2 linked regions of the Homo sapiens genome follow. The protein of the gene in region 2 interacts with the protein of the main gene of each other region in a pairwise test. Each region holds a gene or a part of one and is shown on either strand. Other genes may lie near its edges. The genes, in order: RBL2 and E2F5.

Evidence for each region.
Region 1: the proteins of E2F5 (region 2) and RBL2 interact in a two-hybrid assay, tested with the Homo sapiens proteins (one study listed by BioGRID).

The regions. Positions count from the first base shown.
Region 1 is NC_000016.10:53,489,009-53,492,166, forward strand, and holds the end of RBL2 (retinoblastoma-like protein 2), read left to right. Parts: intron 1-1,121; coding exon 1,122-1,292; 3' UTR 1,293-2,640; downstream 2,641-3,158. UniProt on the Homo sapiens protein: Key regulator of entry into cell division. Directly involved in heterochromatin formation by maintaining overall chromatin structure and, in particular, that of constitutive heterochromatin by stabilizing histone methylation.
Region 2 is NC_000008.11:85,175,530-85,180,015, reverse strand, and holds the start of E2F5 (transcription factor E2F5), read right to left. Parts: upstream 2,863-4,486; 5' UTR 2,596-2,862; coding exon 2,362-2,595; intron 1-2,361.

The sequences.
Region 1 (3,158 bases), on a different chromosome or scaffold from region 2:
ATTCAAGACCAGCTTGGACAACATAGTGCAACCCCATTTCTATTGTTAATTAAAAAAAAAAAAAAAATGAAAAACACTTGTGAAGGTACATCTGTTGATAATAAAGAACACTGATTTTCATTAAAACCCCCAAAACATTTATTACTTTAAAGAATAAAAATAACAAGTGTCATGATAAAATATGTCTGGGATTTGTTTTAAAATAATCTGGGGAATGGAAGTGAATCAGAGTATAAATCAAACAAGGCTGGCCAAACATGCTGAAGTAGAGGAATAGGTATGTGAGGATGCATTATGCTTCTCTACTTTTGTATGTTTACAATTTCCTATAATAGATATCTGTGAATTTGCTTAGTATGCTTTCTGTAAGCAAACATGGATGAAGCAGCACATGAAAAAGAATTTTAACCAACAAACTAGCAGAAAATAATGTGACAGACGACTTTTAGAGGCTTTGGAGAAACTGAATGCTAAAGGTGCTGTACAGCCAGCCCCAGTCTTTCTGACATTCTGGCAGTGTCTTTCTCAATTGCAGCTCCTCATCTGAGCCACTGTCCAGAAAATAATTTGAGTAACTTTAATCCTCAATTCTCCCAAGGATAGTACCATTCTAGATCTTACTAATTTATTAGCTACAATGGATACCTTAGGGGGGGATTAAGGCCTACTTTTCTAGTGAAATCCCAGTTGAGAATGGCTGCTAAAAACTGAGTAACATTAGACTGAAAAAAAGGGAATATTGTATAAAGTTGTACTTTAAAAAAGAGAAAAAGATGTGTCTAAGTGACTATCAGATAGCAATGTAATGCTCCCTAATTGTAAAAAAAATCACAAATTTGTGAACTCACAAATTATAGACATGTATAATTGACCTACAGGTCAAAAGTGCCTGTGGAAGAGCTTGTTAAAAATAGAACTACTCAGCCCCTTCTCAAATAGCCATCGGCCTCAGCCAGCTGAAAAGTAAAGTTGGCAGGTTATGTAACTTAGTGTTTCTTTTCTCTGTAGATGTGTTCAAACTCTTCCAGGGTAAACTGCTTAACTCATTTGAGATTCTTTGACTTAATACTGAGCTATGTGCATTTGCATTTTAAAATTTTTGTATCTTTTTCCCACCATAGAGACTGAGAGAAATTAATAGTATGATACGCACAGGAGAAACTCCTACTAAAAAGAGAGGAATTCTTTTGGAAGATGGAAGTGAATCACCTGCAAAAAGAATTTGCCCAGAAAATCATTCTGCCTTATTACGCCGTCTCCAAGATGTAGCTAATGACCGTGGTTCCCACTGAGGTTAGTCTCTTGTATTAAACTCTTCACAAAATCTGTTTAGCAGCAGCCTTTAATGCATCTAGATTATGGAGCTTTTTTCCTTAATCCAGCTGATGAGTTACAGCCTGTTAGTAACATGAGGGGACATTTTGGTGAGAAATGGGACTTAACTCCTTCCAGTGTCCTTAGAACATTTTAATTCATCCCAACTGTCTTTTTTTCCCTACCATTCAGTGATTACTGTCAAGGCTGCTTAGAATCCAAACTTGGATTTTTGACTCTGGCAAAGCTTTTAGAAATACTGCAAGAAAATGATGTGTACCCAAACGTGAGCATAGGAGGCTTCTGTTGACGTACTCCAACAGAAGAACTGTGTTTCAAGTTCAATCCTACCTGTTTTGTGGTCAGCTGTAGTCCTCATAAAAAGCAAAACAAAAATTAGGTATTTTGTCCTAAAACACCTGGTAGGAGTGTGTGATTTTTTGCATTCCTGACAAAGGAGAGCACACCCAGGTTTGGAGGTCCTAGGTCATTAGCCCTCGTCTCCCGTTCCCTTTGTGCACATCTTCCCTCTCCCCATTCGGTGTGGTGCAGTGTGAAAAGTCCTTGATTGTTCGGGTGTGCAATGTCTGAGTGAACCTGTATAAGTGGAGGCACTTTAGGGCTGTAAAATGCATGATTTTGTAACCCAGATTTTGCTGTATATTTGTGATAGCACTTTCTACAATGTGAACTTTATTAAATACAAAACTTCCAGGCTAAACATCCAATATTTTCTTTAATGCTTTTATATTTTTTTAAAATGTTAAAACCCCTATAGCCACCTTTTGGGAATGTTTTAAATTCTCCAGTTTTTTGTTATATAGGGATCAACCAGCTAAGAAAAGATTTTAATCAAGTTGAATTGAGGGGATTAATATGAAAACTTATGACCTCTTCCTTTAGGAGGGAGTTATCTAAAAGAAATGTCTATTAAGGTGATATATTTAAAAATATTTTTGGGTGTTCCTGGCAGTTTAAAAAAATTGGTTGGAGAATTTAGGTTTTTATTAGTACCATAGTACCATTTATACAAATTAGAAAATGTTATTTAACAGCTGAATTATCTATACATATCTTTATTAATCACTATTGTTCCAGCAGTTTTCAAGTCAAATTAATAATCTTATTAGGGAGAAAATTCAATTGTAAATTGAATCAGTATAAACAAAGTTACTAGGTAACTTCATATTGCTGAGAGAAATATGGAACTTACATTGTTCAATTAGAATAGTGTTCTGCAAAAATATTTATAAAACTTCTCAAGATACTGCTACTGTAATTTTATATGAAGATAAGTGTATTTTTCAATAAAGCATTTATAAATTAGCCTTTGTTTGGTTATATTGAGAAAAGGGTAGTTTCCTGCATAAATGGCAAAGAACAATCATTTATTGGTTTATTTTGTCTCTACTAAACACATTAGTCATTTATCATTTAAATACCGGACTTCATTAGAAACCGTTGTAACACTTTTTCTCCCTCCTGCCATAAAAATACAGTAAGTAATTTGCTTAAAAAAAACAACACAACACTAGGAACAAGTGTTCTGGTTTCTTCTCACTGAACTAAAGACATTTCTCAGTGATTTCAGTTTGTAAATCAGTAAGACAGTGCAGGCTACAAATCAGTGCAGGCTGAAGACTGAGATTCAAATGATCTTCCACTTAAAAGTGCTGAGCTATGGAACCTGCTCTCTCTATACCTCTCCATTTCCTAACATATATACAACTGAAACCACTGATTTATAAACTATTAAGTAGTGCTGAATTCTGTCTGCTCTATTAGTTTAAATGAATGCAACTTACCTTTAGCATTATATTCAGAAAAATACTTACTTAAGCCTC
Region 2 (4,486 bases):
TTTACTATGGTGTATAATAAGAAATATCATTGGAAAGATTTCAATGTAAGATTTTTGGCCGGGCGCGGTGGCTCACGCCTGTAATCCCAGCACTTTGGGAGGCCGAGGCGCGTGGATCACAAGGTCAGGAGATCGAGACCATCCTAGCTAACACAGTGAAACCCTGTCTCTACTAAAATTACAAAAAAATTAGCTGGGTGCGCTGGCGGGCGCCTGTAGTCCGAGCTACTCGGGAGGCTGACACAGGAGAATGGCGTGAACCCGGGAGGCGGAGCTTGCAGTGAGCCCAGATCGCGCCACTGCACTCCAGCCTGGGCGACAGAGCAAGACTCCGTCTCAAAAAAGAAAAAAAAAAGATTTTTACATATATAAGTATATATAAATAAATGAAAAATATACGTAAAATACATAAAACATATGTTTTTCATACATATATATGAAAACTAAAGACATTCAAACTCTTTTCTAGGAGTATGAAGTCATTAATATAATGAGACAGTGTTATTGTAGAAACCTTTGAATTTTTAGGAGAGTTCCAGAATGAATAAAGCAATTATTGTCATGAAATACCAAACTTTACATCCTACTCACTGCCTCTGTGACTTCTGTAGGGCAATTATATAGCCACAGATGAAACAGGAGGAAGCTAAAGAATTTCAAGTCAAGAAAGGGCAAAGTTCCACCATATCCTGAGGCAAGCTGAGGGAGAAGCCCTCAAAGTCCAGCCGTCAGAGTTCAGTTTTACCTGGAAAACCCCAAACTTCCCTGATTTTCTTACACCAAAGTCACAGGCTACAGCTGAATTTCTAGATTTTGAACAGCAGTTTGCCACCTGTGCTTTGTAACATTCCTGGCTTTCTCTGATAACTTCATGACTTCCTGTGAAATTCTTTAAACAGAATCCATTTTAATTCACTACAATTTAAATACTACACATGCCATAAATCACTTTCAGGGAGAGAAAGGAAGAAGGGGCTGTGGTGGAAAAAAGAGAACAAGGAATTTCCAGAGGTGGGAAAAAAATTCCAGGAATAACATATCAAAAAGAAAATAGTAGAAATTACTTACCAAAATGCAAAATATGTGCAGCATGCCTCAGTTGTATGAAGTTGAACAATTTAGGTAATTCAGTTCAACAATCACTGATTGAACACCAACTACATCCAGGGAAAGGAGAGGGCACTGAAAAGATCTACTTCCCCTTGGGCTACACTGGAGGAGGGCCTCTAGCAGAAGAGTTGGCCCCTGCAAGTCTTGGTCCTTACATTCAGGGAGCTGCCACTGCTTTATGCAGAGCCTTGAGGATGCAGTGACACTCTCAAGCCAGGTAAGGTGGTCCAGGCACTCCCCTGGGAGCTGGGGCCAATCCTCCAAGTAAGGCCACATTTAGGGAGTCAAAGGGGATTTGCAGTGATTATTGGGCAGTTAGTGTTTTTTGTTTGTTTGTTTCTAAAACTTTAGTTCTTAAACTTCGCGCGGAGTGACCACATTCTCATTATCCTGAGCGCTGTTGAATTCTTCCAAATCCTTCCTAGATCGGTTAAGTCATTCTGTATGACAGAACAGCTTTTGATGCCTGCTCCTGTTTGAAAAATCTGAACGCTGTAAAGGACGACGCAGGGAGAGAGTTTACTGAGCACTTCCACCTCTTTGGGTGAAAGTTGTAAAATATCCCCTTTTCGTGTGACAGCAGATCTCACTTTTGGAAACCCATGACACATGCCAAATGAAGTCACAAATCAAATACCCCTCCTAACTATCAGGGTGATGAAAGAAGTGCACAAGGAAGATTTAATACTATTTTATCGGGGAGGGGCGTGGAAAGAAGTACTCTTTTTTTTTTTTCTTTCATCTGGTAGAGATGGCAGACTGGGTTTTGTTTTTCCTCCTTTTTATTTAAACTACAGGAACATGGTTCCAACTGGAATCGCCTATTAAAACCATCCATTCTTAACAGCAAAATCGATATCCACGGTGTCTCCGGGCAAAGCGCCCGTTACCCCGTGAGCCTCTGCCACAGGTGGACGCAGAGCAACAGACACTCGGTTACCCTCAGGTCCCTGCGCCCGGAGACAGAAGCCACGCGGGCGCGCTCGAGGTCCTGGGCTCTTTGTCGAGAGCCCAGCGTGGCGCCGGGCCCCATTGGTTACGCGTCCGCTCGGTGCCATCCTGGTCCCTCGTCCCTCCCCCATCCCGGCGTCCACGACCCGGGCGCAGGCCACATGGTCCTCGGATTGCCCGGTCCCGGGTCCCCGCAAGGCGCGTCTACACCACGCCGCTAGACCCACGCGGCGAGGGGCTGGGCTTCCCCGGGGGCCACGGGTTCCGAAGTCCGCCCCCGTCCCCGCCTCCGGAGCTCACCGCTTTGAGATCCAGAACGCCGTCCTTGGCCTCCTGCAGCAGCGACACGAACTTGGTAGTGAGCAGCCCCAGGCTCTTCTCGTGCCTGCTGCTGCCGCCCCCGGCGCCCCCGAGCTGCGGCGGCGGGGGCGGCTGCGGGGCTTGCGCCTGCGGAGGCTGCGGCGGCGGCCGCTGGCCCTGCCCCTGCCCTGCCGGCGCCTGCTGGCCCGAGCTCGCGGGCTCTGCCGCCGCCATCGCGTCCCGGCCCCGCGGTGGTCGGGCCCCCGCGCACTTTCGCTCGCCGGCCCCGCCCGCGGCCACCTGCCGGGTCGGCTCCGCTGCGGCCGCTTCCCCGCCCGCCGAGAGCGGTAGTGCGGGTCGCTGGCTGCTGCAAACAACAGGTGTGCGGCGCCCACGGGAGTCTGGGCCGCTTGTCACGCCGGGCCTCCGCCCCCTCCCCAAGCCCGGGGAAGCGTGAATGAGGCCCACGACCGAGGGGGGAGGGGTGGAAACGAGGAGAAGGGGCTGCGAGGGGTGGGGACCTGAGTTTAAATGGCAGGAAGTGACGCCGCCGCCCGCCGTTGCCTAGAAACACATTTTTCTGTAGGAAGGAGGAGCGCACGAGGAGGAGGAGGGGTGTTGGCGCGTGTGTTTCACACTCGCCTCCCTGGCGTTCGCGAGCTGACCCGAGGAGTGGTAATCTCACGCGGCAAAGCAGGGAGGAAGAAAAAAAGGAGACAAAAGAAAAAAAGACTTTTATCTGGGCAGAAAGTCACAATGCCTAGCGGCCAAACGTTTGTGAGCGGTGAAGTTGGTTGACTGCTCAAGTTTGCAGAGCTTCAGCAGTAGGTTACTTTCTCTGGACGGTTTCTGCTATCTTTGCTCTTTTCGAGCTCTAGCATCGTTTGCAAATATTTCAATGACTTGGACCAAGTGCAGAGTTTTACTTCATAGCTCACCCTTTTAGATTCGGAGTACAGAAAAAGGCATCGTGGAGTTTTAGGGTTGGTTTTCATCAATCCTTTCCAAGGCCTTTACTTTCTACATGGAGAAACGTGTAGAGGGAGAGGTTGTGAATTGCCAAAGACATGCCGTTAGATTCCAGATCTCCTGTGTTTGACCAAAGTTCTTGACCAAAGTTCTTAATATCTTATTTGAACCAAATTATATTGTATTTGGAATATTGGGTAGCCACAGGCCCTTGGACTTCAGTGATATTCCAAACTATTGATGGCAAATGACATTATGGAGATCTGAGTAAAAGAAAGTCGTTGGGATTTTTTCCTCATTATATTACAAACTCTTGAGAATCCAGACTAAATTTTAAATGACTTGTTGTCACACTCAACACTTTGAATATAGTAGACAATAAAGATTAGGCGAATGAGACCAGGCGCGGTGGCTTACGCCTGTAATCCCAGCACTTTGGGAGGCCGAGGCAGGCAGATCATTTGAGATCAGGAGTTCGAGACCAACCTGGCCAACATGGTAAAACCCCGTCTCTACTAAAAATACAAAAATTAGCGGGGGGTGGTGGTGCCCGCCTATAGTCCCAGCTACTCCAGAGCCTGAGGCAGGAGAATCTCTTAAACCCAGGAGGCAGACGTTGCAGTGTTGCAGTGAGCCGAGATGCCACCACTGCACTTCAGCCTGGGCAACAAAGCAAGACTCTGTCTCAAATAAAAAAAAAAAAGATTAGGTGAATGAAAATTCTATATGGCAATAATTAATCAAGAAGATTTCATGCAAGAAAGATTTTGCTTAATTTTAAGTAACAATAAACTAACAAAAAAGGTCACTGAAGCGACATCAAATACAACAGCATTAACTAGTAAAGCTGAACACACCATTTATAACACATCATAGGCACAGAACTTTATAACCTTTATTAATAACCTATTCATAATAACCTTTATTTTAATCAAATCTATAAACAAAACTTAAAATTGAAAATCTGAAGTAAAACATGAAAAATTCAGTTGATACAACCATTTTCCAACAACCTATCCAAGAAAGGCTATCTTTATTTGATTTGACATGGGACACATCATTGACAAGTTTTGCAAATTTATTTTATTGATTATTGTCAAGTAGTATTTCTTAGAACATACTGAATTAGGAAGATTCTAATTTGTTTTTAACTTTA